Homo sapiens: one gene and its partner. The protein of the gene in region 1 interacts with the protein of each later gene in a pairwise test. Each region holds a gene or a part of one and is shown in the gene's direction. Other genes may lie near its edges.

What was found.
Region 2: the proteins of PARD3 (region 1) and MYBPC3 interact in a two-hybrid assay, tested with the Homo sapiens proteins (one study listed by IntAct).

What each region holds. Positions count from the first base shown.
Region 1 is NC_000010.11:34,109,061-34,112,440, reverse strand, and holds the end of PARD3 (partitioning defective 3 homolog), read left to right. Parts: intron 1-878; coding exon 879-1,272; 3' UTR 1,273-2,880; downstream 2,881-3,380. UniProt on the Homo sapiens protein: Adapter protein involved in asymmetrical cell division and cell polarization processes. Seems to play a central role in the formation of epithelial tight junctions. Targets the phosphatase PTEN to cell junctions.
Region 2 is NC_000011.10:47,335,703-47,342,702, reverse strand, and holds part of MYBPC3 (myosin-binding protein C, cardiac-type), read left to right. Parts: coding exon 1-125; intron 126-546; coding exon 547-712; intron 713-1,458; coding exon 1,459-1,565; intron 1,566-1,670; coding exon 1,671-1,700; intron 1,701-2,912; coding exon 2,913-3,052; intron 3,053-3,298; coding exon 3,299-3,379; intron 3,380-4,023; coding exon 4,024-4,183; intron 4,184-4,908; coding exon 4,909-5,013; intron 5,014-5,123; coding exon 5,124-5,312; intron 5,313-6,691; coding exon 6,692-6,826; intron 6,827-7,000. UniProt on the Homo sapiens protein: Thick filament-associated protein located in the crossbridge region of vertebrate striated muscle a bands. In vitro it binds MHC, F-actin and native thin filaments, and modifies the activity of actin-activated myosin ATPase.

The sequences.
Region 1 (3,380 bases):
ATTCATAAAACCATCTAGAGACTTGATAGTAAATTAAAGATGTTTCAAAACAATAATGTTTCCTGGAAATCATGCCCAACTCTGTTGCAGAAGTGGGAAGAATTTGAAATTTCCATGTGACTCTGATTTACTTGCCTATCCTGGGGTGACAGAAAGCAAGTTAAGTAGGTCACCCTGGCCTTTGGTGAAGGTAAATGTATAAGAAAATAGTGCTTACTTTACAGACTTCCGGACTCTCCGTCCAATCTGGATGAGCAGGTATCCCGGAGAGTGTAAGTTGCTGACATACACAACTTGAAAGCCAGAGCTTTAAGGGACTGCCTGTTGCATTTTTTATCATAAAGGAGTCTAGACTTAAATCTTTCATAACCGAACTCATACTGTAATCCATTACATGTACTTCATATTAGCTAGCGCTTCTGGCATTATGGTGGCAGCTGTGTAAAATATTTGTTGTGCTTGTTTAGAATTGAATTGTAATGTTCTAAAGCGAGCAATTATTCCTACCATGGAAGCTGCCAAACCTCTAATACTTCTATACTTTGCCAGTGTGTCTAAATTGCAGGAGATATTGGTACCCTAAGCAGAACAGACACAACCTTCTCAGACACAGGAGGATGACCCTGTTTCTAAATAGCTGCACAGTCTAGTTCTCTCTCCTGTTTACTCGTTGTTAGTTTAGTTGTCTAAGACTATGCGCTTGCTGAGGACAGTCATTTTTGAATTCTCCAGCCCCTATCGCAGTGTCTGGCATGTGATGAGAGAACAGGAATATTTGTTGAAAAGTGAAAATGCATATTCCATCCCATCCTGCCCCCTTTCCTCCCTCTCCCTCCTTCTTCCTACCCTCACACTAACCTTTGGGTTTTGCTTTCTAGGCAAAGCAGGAAAAATGCCAGCTCGGTCTCCCAGGACTCTTGGGAGCAGAACTACTCCCCTGGGGAAGGCTTCCAGAGTGCCAAAGAGAACCCCAGGTACTCCAGCTACCAAGGCTCCAGGAACGGCTACCTGGGAGGACATGGCTTCAACGCCAGGGTCATGCTGGAAACTCAGGAGCTCCTTCGCCAGGAACAGAGGCGGAAGGAGCAGCAGATGAAGAAGCAGCCTCCTTCCGAGGGGCCCAGCAACTATGACTCGTATAAGAAAGTCCAGGACCCCAGTTACGCCCCTCCCAAGGGGCCCTTCCGGCAAGATGTGCCCCCCTCCCCTTCTCAGGTTGCGAGGCTGAACAGACTTCAGACTCCTGAGAAAGGGAGGCCCTTCTATTCCTGAGCACGCAAATAACGGATGCTTCATGTCGCGCAATAAAAGACATTTTCCTATGAAGACTTGTATTTTGGGAGTTTTTTTAAAACCTCGATGGTACTATGGAGTATTTCTGTTGTTGGTATCAGTGCCTTTAAGCGGTGTAGGCAAAGAAATGGAAGGCCTTAATGTCTTTGCCACTATGTCTCAAGTGTCTGTTTCATGGAAGGATTTCCCACCCTGTGACAATCATCTGTTTGAGGTGTTCATATGCTCTGCGCCTCTCCACAGTACCAGGAATCTCGGCCCTACTCATGAGTTGTCCGCGGCTTGGTTGTAACATCCCTGCACCACTTGCAGTGACAAATTCACCTGAAGTGGAGGATGACGTGCGGCCCTGTTTCTCCCTCTAAGTTCTCTTAGCTATGGGATGACATCTTAGTCTCTGGTGGAGGAAAAGTGGGCGACATACACCAAAAATTGGGGCTTTCTGGTACTTCACAGCACAGCCATTTGTCGTACTTTGTCATCACTGTGGTTTTCTCTTTCCTTTCTCAGCTCTTTGTGACGGGAGAGTCGGTCATCCTATTACAGAAGCTAAGCCATAGTCCAACATTGTTTGGTCACCATGGGGGTCCTTTTGTAACTGCCTTATGACTCAACATTACCAATAAAGTGATGATCCTGGTCTGCGTTTATACATACGCTTGTTCGGTCCTGTTCCTGACACGTGGGTTGAGTCACCACAGCTCTGTGTGGGGAACGTGGGAGACAGGAGTGGCTCCTGCCGGGGGAAGCTGGGCCTGCCATTGGCCCTGTGTCTATCATGAGGGGAGAGCTAAGAAAGAAATTCTCCTAGGAAGAGCTCATGGCCCAGTACATCCTAGTAATTATTTTAATTAGTTTTTGTTCTGACAGCTTGTCAGGAAGGGCACAGAATGGGACAGAGATAAACCAGACAGTCATTTTGATCTGCTCTCTACGGTTTTTCAAGTCAGAGGCAATTGATGCTTGTCTAATGCATCCACACACTGCATGTCTGACTGGCGATGCCGCGCTCCTAAGTAGTTCTGCCATGAAACATAAAAGACAAAGGAAAAGCCGTTACACATCACACAGAGAACATTTTCGGGTCCCACAGCGGTGGTGGCAGGAAGCTCACTCTCGCGTCAGTATTAGAGTGTGTGTGTGGGTCTCGGGGATCTCGGTGGCTCCCATCTTCCTTCATTGTTCTGAACATCCTGTATTGTAAACCATGGCTGGGGTGCTAAAGTGCCTGTGAATCCCGATGTGGAAAAAGCTGGAGGTGAAAGCTCAGCATACCATGTATTTACTTTAAAAACAGAAAAAAAGACATGTATGGATATGTCTATTTTTTTTTTATTGGCACATTGTATTTTTGTGTTGACTTGTTTTTAGAAATGATGTGTCCACACACGTACCCGTGTCTCTTCTGCATTTCTGTGTCATGGTTCTGTTTCTTAATCACGTGCGGCGGTGTCTAAGTGGTGTTACCAGTGTACGCGCAGTGACCTTGGATGACAGTGGCTCTTTCTCACAGCCTCCCCTGAGCTGTGAGAAACAGCTTTCTCTGTACATATGCAACTCCTAATAAAAGGCATATTTCTTCCTGTTCTTTTGGTGTCTCTGGTGTTCCTGGGCAGCCTTGCCTAGCTGGGCTTTTTTAAAAGGTCTATTAACAGATGTGATTTTTTTTTTTTTTTTATATTTAGAGAAAGTTGGAAGTTTCCTCACATCTGAGGAAAGTTTGCAGGAAAGGGGGCAGGAGAACCCTGGGGCCCACTCTTGGATGAGGATGGAGAGGGGGGACTCACCTGTCCCTTGGAAAAGATGGTCCCCATTATGACATCATTCTCACTCTTAGTCCATTAAGACAATATACAGTCTTACAGTTGGAAGTCTCAAAGTGGGAAGTTTGCAAACACAGGAACTGGTGGTTGATTGCGTATTTGAGCACCTGAGGAGAGAGGGGAAGGGGAGAGACAAGAACCTTCATGAGTCCACTGCAAGGCCCAGGCTGCCTGAAGAAGCCTGAGGAGTTCTGAATTGAAGGAGCCAGTACAGCTCGAACTAAATGAATGAAAAATTATGCAGAAAGCGACATGATAGTCCCA
Region 2 (7,000 bases), on another chromosome or scaffold:
ATACCGGTTCAAGAAGGACGGGCAGAGACACCACCTGATCATCAACGAGGCCATGCTGGAGGACGCGGGGCACTATGCACTGTGCACTAGCGGGGGCCAGGCGCTGGCTGAGCTCATTGTGCAGGGTGAGCCTGGCTGGGGGGGCACATGAGGCTTTAGGGCTTGGACCCCTCAGCCCCCACCCCACCTAGCCCTGTAGGGGAGCAGGCAAACCTGGGCTCAAGGCCTCTGTGACCTTGGGCCTTTGACAGCCTAAACCTCATCCTTCTCATCTCTAAAATGACGATGCTGAGGTGACCGCTCCAGAGGGTACTGAGAGGGTCATACGGGCCTGGTGAGCATCACCACCCCTCAGACACTTGAGGTTCCTTATGTGCACTGCACCATCACAGGCAAACATGGCACACACAGGCACACGTGTTTTCACATGCCCACATGCACCCAGACACGTGCGCACCAGCGCCCATGGGCCCACACGCCCTCCACAGGGATTCACGCCACACCCACACACCCTCCCGAGCTCAATGGCTCTGCCCTGCCCTGCAGAAAAGAAGCTGGAGGTGTACCAGAGCATCGCAGACCTGATGGTGGGCGCAAAGGACCAGGCGGTGTTCAAATGTGAGGTCTCAGATGAGAATGTTCGGGGTGTGTGGCTGAAGAATGGGAAGGAGCTGGTGCCCGACAGCCGCATAAAGGTGTCCCACATCGGGCGGTGAGTGTGCAGGGCAGGTGGATGGGACAGGTGGAGACTGAGATGGAGACAGAGAGAGACACAGGGAGAAACAGAGAGAGAGAGATAAAGACAGGTGGACAGAGAGGCAGATGCACAGAGACAGGACAGAGACTGAGACAGAGACCCACAGAGAGGGAGAAACAGACAGACCCAAAAAGACAAAGAGACAGAAAGACAGAAATAGTTCTATAGAGACAGAAAGATATGCACAGGGAGGCACACACATAGGAGAGTTCGTCAGAGACAGAGAAGAACAGAGGGACAGAGACAAAGAGGCAGCAGGGAGAGACACGGACGGGGTCGAGCGCTCCCCAGCACCCTCCCCCAGCTTGTGACCAGGGCAGGGCAGGAGGCCACCAAGGAGGCCGGCTCTGGCCAGAGGCCCTCACTGCCTCTCCCGCCCTCTTGCTCATCCCTGGAGCAACTGGGCTGGCCGTGCTGGGCCCAAGTTCACAGAGATTAATGAGACCCAGCCCCTGCCCAGTCTCCAAGGGCCCAGCCAAGGAGATGCTTTGATGTAGAAATCACTTTTACGCTGCCTACCTCTGAAGGCACATTAAAAAGCTGGAAAATTAGATAATATAGAAAAAAAAAGGCATTTTTAAAAATCAGAATACCAACAAGCCAGGACAAGGTGAGGGCCTCCTGGGACCCTGGCTGGGGTATCTGGCAAGGCCAGGGGTGTGTGGCCCAGTGGGGTCCCCTGAGCCACTGCTCCCCTGCAGGGTCCACAAACTGACCATTGACGACGTCACACCTGCCGACGAGGCTGACTACAGCTTTGTGCCCGAGGGCTTCGCCTGCAACCTGTCAGCCAAGCTCCACTTCATGGGTGAGCCTGCTCCAGGGTAGGGTGGGTCGGGGCAGTGGGGCCAGGAGCCCCTGTCACTGGGCCCTGCCTTTGCCCCCGTGCTACTTGCTCTTCCTTCTCTTGCAGAGGTCAAGATTGACTTCGTACCCAGGCAGGGTAAGTCTTGGGGCCCCTGAGTCTTGGTTCTGCTCACTTTCCCGCAACCCACCCACGCAGGCCTCCCCTCCACTCACAGAGGGAAGAGCAAGGATCAAAAGTGGGGGTCCTGGGGCCCAGCTTCAGCTTTGCCACTCATGACCATGGGTCAATTATAATCTCTGTGAGCCTCAGTTTCCTCTTCTCTAAAATGGGAACCCTGATAGTGCCACCTCATAGGATAGTTATAAAGATGAGGTGACATGATGTATCAGACCTGTCAAGTGCTGTCACATGTGTGACTGTTATTATTACATCTTTTCTTCTTCTTCCTTTTTTTTTATTTTTATTTTTTTTGAGACGGAGTCTCCCTCTGTCGCCCACGCTGGAGAGAAGTGGCGCGATCTCGGCTCACTGCAAGCTCCGCCTCCCAGGTTCACACCACTCTCCTGCCTCAGCCTCCTGAGTAGCTGGGACTACAGGCGCCCGCCACCATGCCCAGCTAATTATTTTTTGTATTTTTAGTAGAGACGGGGTTTCACCATGTTAGCCAGGATGGTTTCGATCTCCTGATCTCATGATCTGCCTGCCTCGGCCTCCCAAAGTGCTGGGATTACAGGCGTGAGCCACTGCGTCCAGACTGCTTTGCTTTGTTTAACTGAGGGCAGATTCCTGATTTATTTGGCCAGGGAACCTTTTTAATGTGTGCATGTGTGCGTGCATGTGTGCGCGCGTGTGTGTGTGTGCATGTGTCTGTGTGTGTATGTATATATGTGTGTCTGTGTCTGTGTGTGTGCGTGTATGTATGTGTATTTGTGTCTGTGTGCATGTGTGTGTCTGTGTGTGCATGTGTGTATGTGTATGTGTGTCTGTGTGTATGTGTATATGCGTGTGTGTGTGTGTATTGTGTGTGTGTGTATGTGTGTGGCAAGACACTGATGTTCCCCCAGTTTTCAAAATGCTATGCTAGGTGACCTGACCTGAATATTACAAGCCTCCCAGCCAACGTCCTGGGGTGATGGGAATGTTCCAGATCTTGGTTGGATTAATAATTGCATGGGTGTATTCATCTGTCAGAACTCAGCCTACTGTCAGATCTGAGCATAAACTATACCTCAATACAAATCTAAAAAACCAATAACCAGGGGCCCAGGCTCTTGAGCAGCCCCGCCCCAGTGACCTGTGCTCCTCCTGGCTCTCCCGTTTCTCTGAACTACATTGTGTCTTCTGCAGAACCTCCCAAGATCCACCTGGACTGCCCAGGCCGCATACCAGACACCATTGTGGTTGTAGCTGGAAATAAGCTACGTCTGGACGTCCCTATCTCTGGGGACCCTGCTCCCACTGTGATCTGGCAGAAGGCTATCACGCAGGTACTGTGGGTCCCTCCTCAGTCTCCCCATCTATAAGATGGGTGTGTGGAACCAGCCAAGTGCTAGGACCTGCTGCACACCCCACCCACATGTGCACGCCCTGCTGTTGGCTACCCCATGGGAGAGACTGGTCAGGGGGCAGGCAAGGTGGGCAGTGTGGGTCAGGGGGTGGAAGAAGCAGCAGAGGGGCGCTTCCAGGCTGAGTCAGCTCCTCTGCTCCCTACTTCCCTCCTGCCCTGTTCCCAGGGGAATAAGGCCCCAGCCAGGCCAGCCCCAGATGCCCCAGAGGACACAGGTGACAGCGATGAGTGGGTGTTTGACAAGAAGGTGAGTGAGACTGAGGTCAGGAGGAGGCTCGTTTGTCTTTCATCACTTTCTACCTACGTGGTGCCGAGCCCTTGGCGAGGTCTCCATGGAGGTGCCACACTTGGCCGGGTGTGTTGCTGCCCCCAGCAGGGTCCCTGTGGGGCCCTCACACCTCAGGCAGAGGGTCTCTGTGAAGTGTGCTGATGGCCATCACAAGGATGTGGACACCCTCTCATTGCCAGGAAGCCCTCATGACTGGGCTGCTCCCTGGCTCCCTTCATCCTAAGCTGACCTTGACCTTGACCTTGTGCTCCCTCTCAACTCAGGAGTAGTTTCTGAGACACTTTTCTGCCAGTGTAGCTGCCGGGGTCTTGCTCCTGCCTGGCACTGTTGGTTCTTCTGAAGGCTGGGGTCTTGAGGGGTCCTCATGATAGCTCATCTGAGAGGACAGGTGGTTGCCCCAGGTCCCGTGACAAAGCTAGAACCCGAGCCCCTGCCCTCAGTCGGTGCCACAGAGATGATTTTGAACTAGATGCTGACGTGGATGCAGTCTTCCCACAGGCTGTGTTCCCCCCATGGACCCCCGGGACATCTGGCTGTTGGCGGAGGCTGCAAGGGCCTCTGGGGTCTGACTTGGATCTCACCCCAACTCTGCACCCCCCCAGCTGCTGTGTGAGACCGAGGGCCGGGTCCGCGTGGAGACCACCAAGGACCGCAGCATCTTCACGGTCGAGGGGGCAGAGAAGGAAGATGAGGGCGTCTACACGGTCACAGTGAAGAACCCTGTGGGCGAGGACCAGGTCAACCTCACAGTCAAGGTCATCGGTGAGGCCGGCCGGGGTCCAAGCTGGAGAACACAGAGGGGCAGCCCCAAGGAGGGCCCATCCGTTCGCTCATTCAGCCACTCGACAAACATCACGGGCATGCTCCCTGAGCCGAGCGGCAACAGGACAGGTTTTTCTGCCCAAAAGGAGCCCCGCTCTGGGGGAGATGGAGGCAGATGCATCCAGCAGATTTCCTGCGACACTGCTGTACATGAGCCATGTCCAGAGTGCCGTGGGAGCACTGAGCAGAGAGCCATCCCTGTGCCTGGGGGTGATGCCTTTAGGAGGCTGAGAAGATGGTGAGGAAAGGCATCCCAGGCAGAGGAAACTGTGTACAAAGGGGTGGAGGAGGGAAAGGGCCTTTTGGGTGTGGAGAATGAATGAAACATGTCAGGAGAGGACTGGGTGGGGTTGGGAGGATCAGAGCCAGGACAGGGGTGAATATGGGCAGTGAGAAGCCTTAAAGGGTTGACGGAGGGCTGGCGACATGATCAGAAATGCATCCTGTTGAGACCCAGCCTGGACAACACAGTGAGACTCCATATCACTAAAAAAAAAAAAAAAAAAAGGAAAAGAAGAAAGAAATGCATTCTAGAAAGATCTCTTTGGATCTGGGGGTGGTGGGGGCAGCCTGTGGCGGTTAGTTGGAGTGGGAAGGGGACGAGCAACGTTACTCAAGGCCCTGAGCGGGGCAGGGCTGATGTGGGTCCATCCCACCCCATCCAGACGTGCCAGACGCACCTGCGGCCCCCAAGATCAGCAACGTGGGAGAGGACTCCTGCACAGTACAGTGGGAGCCGCCTGCCTACGATGGCGGGCAGCCCATCCTGGGTGAGTGCAAGGGCACCGGATGGAGGTGTGAGGGCGCCAAACAGATCCGAGGGAAGGTGGTGTGGGGATGCCTGGGTTCCAGACCAGAGCTGCCACCTCCCCTGAGCCAGGCTACATCCTGGAGCGCAAGAAGAAGAAGAGCTACCGGTGGATGCGGCTGAACTTCGACCTGATTCAGGAGCTGAGTCATGAAGCGCGGCGCATGATCGAGGGCGTGGTGTACGAGATGCGCGTCTACGCGGTCAACGCCATCGGCATGTCCAGGCCCAGCCCTGCCTCCCAGCCCTTCATGCCTATCGGTGAGCCTGCCTGGCCTGGTCCTGCCCCCCGCCCCCTCCCCAGTTAAAAACCTCCAATAATAGCAGGTGCTCTGCAGGCAGCCATGCTAGACACTCACATCCACAGTCTCCTTTCATCCTCGACTGGGGATACTCAGCCGCATTTTACAGATGAGGAAACAGGCTCCAAGCAGTTAAATGACCTGCTTGAGATCTCCCAGCTGGTTGGGGTGGAGCTGACTCTCACACTACGCCGACCCCTAGTTCACGTTTCAAGCCTCTCTTTCCATGTCTACAAAATGGGAATAATGACACTGCCTATCTCAGAGAGCTGTTAGGATGATATGGGATGACCAGGCAGGCCATCTGGCATCTAACAGGTGCTCAATAAATGTTCATTGTCCCCTGTTCTCCACACCCTTCAACCCAGGGTTTTCACCTATGGGATGGGGCAAGGGCTGTAGTTAGTGGAGGGGTCTCAGGGGCATCTGTCTGTGGAAAGAGTCCTGGACCAAGACTCAGAGATGGCAGAGGCAGCTCCATGGTCCCCGGGGGGCCAACTGGAGTCATCCCTCCCTGAAGCCTCAGCTTCCTCATCTGTATAATGGGGTCTGAGTGGGCAGAACAGGTGTTGAGACTGTGGCAGGGCTCAGGAGGACACCTGTTCCCACTAGGGTGGGTGAGTCCGGGGGCAGCTGCCTGTGGCAAGGGCAGGCCAAGGACCCCTGGGCCCAGGGATGGGGCACAGCTTGGGAAGATGGCAGGAATCGGGGCCTGTGGGGAGAAGGGTCCAGGCCTCTCGTTTTAGGGACTGATTCCTGGTTTGTTCAGTTCTTAGTCAACTCACCTAATCATACGTGCCAGGAAATTCCCATGTTTTCTGTAGTTTTAGTTTTAGTTTTTTTTTTTTTTTTTTTTTTTTGAGATGGAGTCTCGCTCTGTCACCCAGACTGGAGTGCAGTCCTGGCGCGATCTGGGGTCACTGTAACCTTCACCTCCCAGGTTCAAGCAATTCTCCCACCTCAGCCTTCTGAGTAGCTGGGATTACAGGCATCCACCACCATGCCCAGCTAATTTTTGTATTTTTGTAGAGACGGAGTTTCACCATGTTGGCCAGGCTGGTCTTGAACTCCTGACCTCAGGTGATCCTCCCACCTCGGCCTCCCAAAGTGCTGGGATTACAGGCGTGAGCCACCGTGCCTGGCTGCTGTTGCTGTTTGTTTTTAAGCCAATCTACAGACATGTCTTGTAACAGGGACAAAATATTCCTTAAAGTGGCCAAAAGCCAGCTGAACAGGAAGTGCCCCCTATGTGACCAGTGGGCAGTTCAGAGTCTAGGGCATGGATCTCCAGCTTCCCCAGGCTTGCTCAGACCCCTCTCTGACCTCTCCTCTGCCCAGGTCCCCCCAGCGAACCCACCCACCTGGCAGTAGAGGACGTCTCTGACACCACGGTCTCCCTCAAGTGGCGGCCCCCAGAGCGCGTGGGAGCAGGAGGCCTGGATGGCTACAGCGTGGAGTACTGCCCAGAGGGCTGTGAGTGTCCCCGCCCCCAACCCCCCTCCCCAAAGGAAGAACATGCTCACCTTGCCATTGAGCAGATTCACCTGTAGTCAAGTTTTTTAGGCCCACTTTTGCCGAAAGTTGAGGACACCCAGAGAAATATCTGTCCTGTTTTCAGAAGTAAAAAAGCTTGCCTAGTGAAAAACA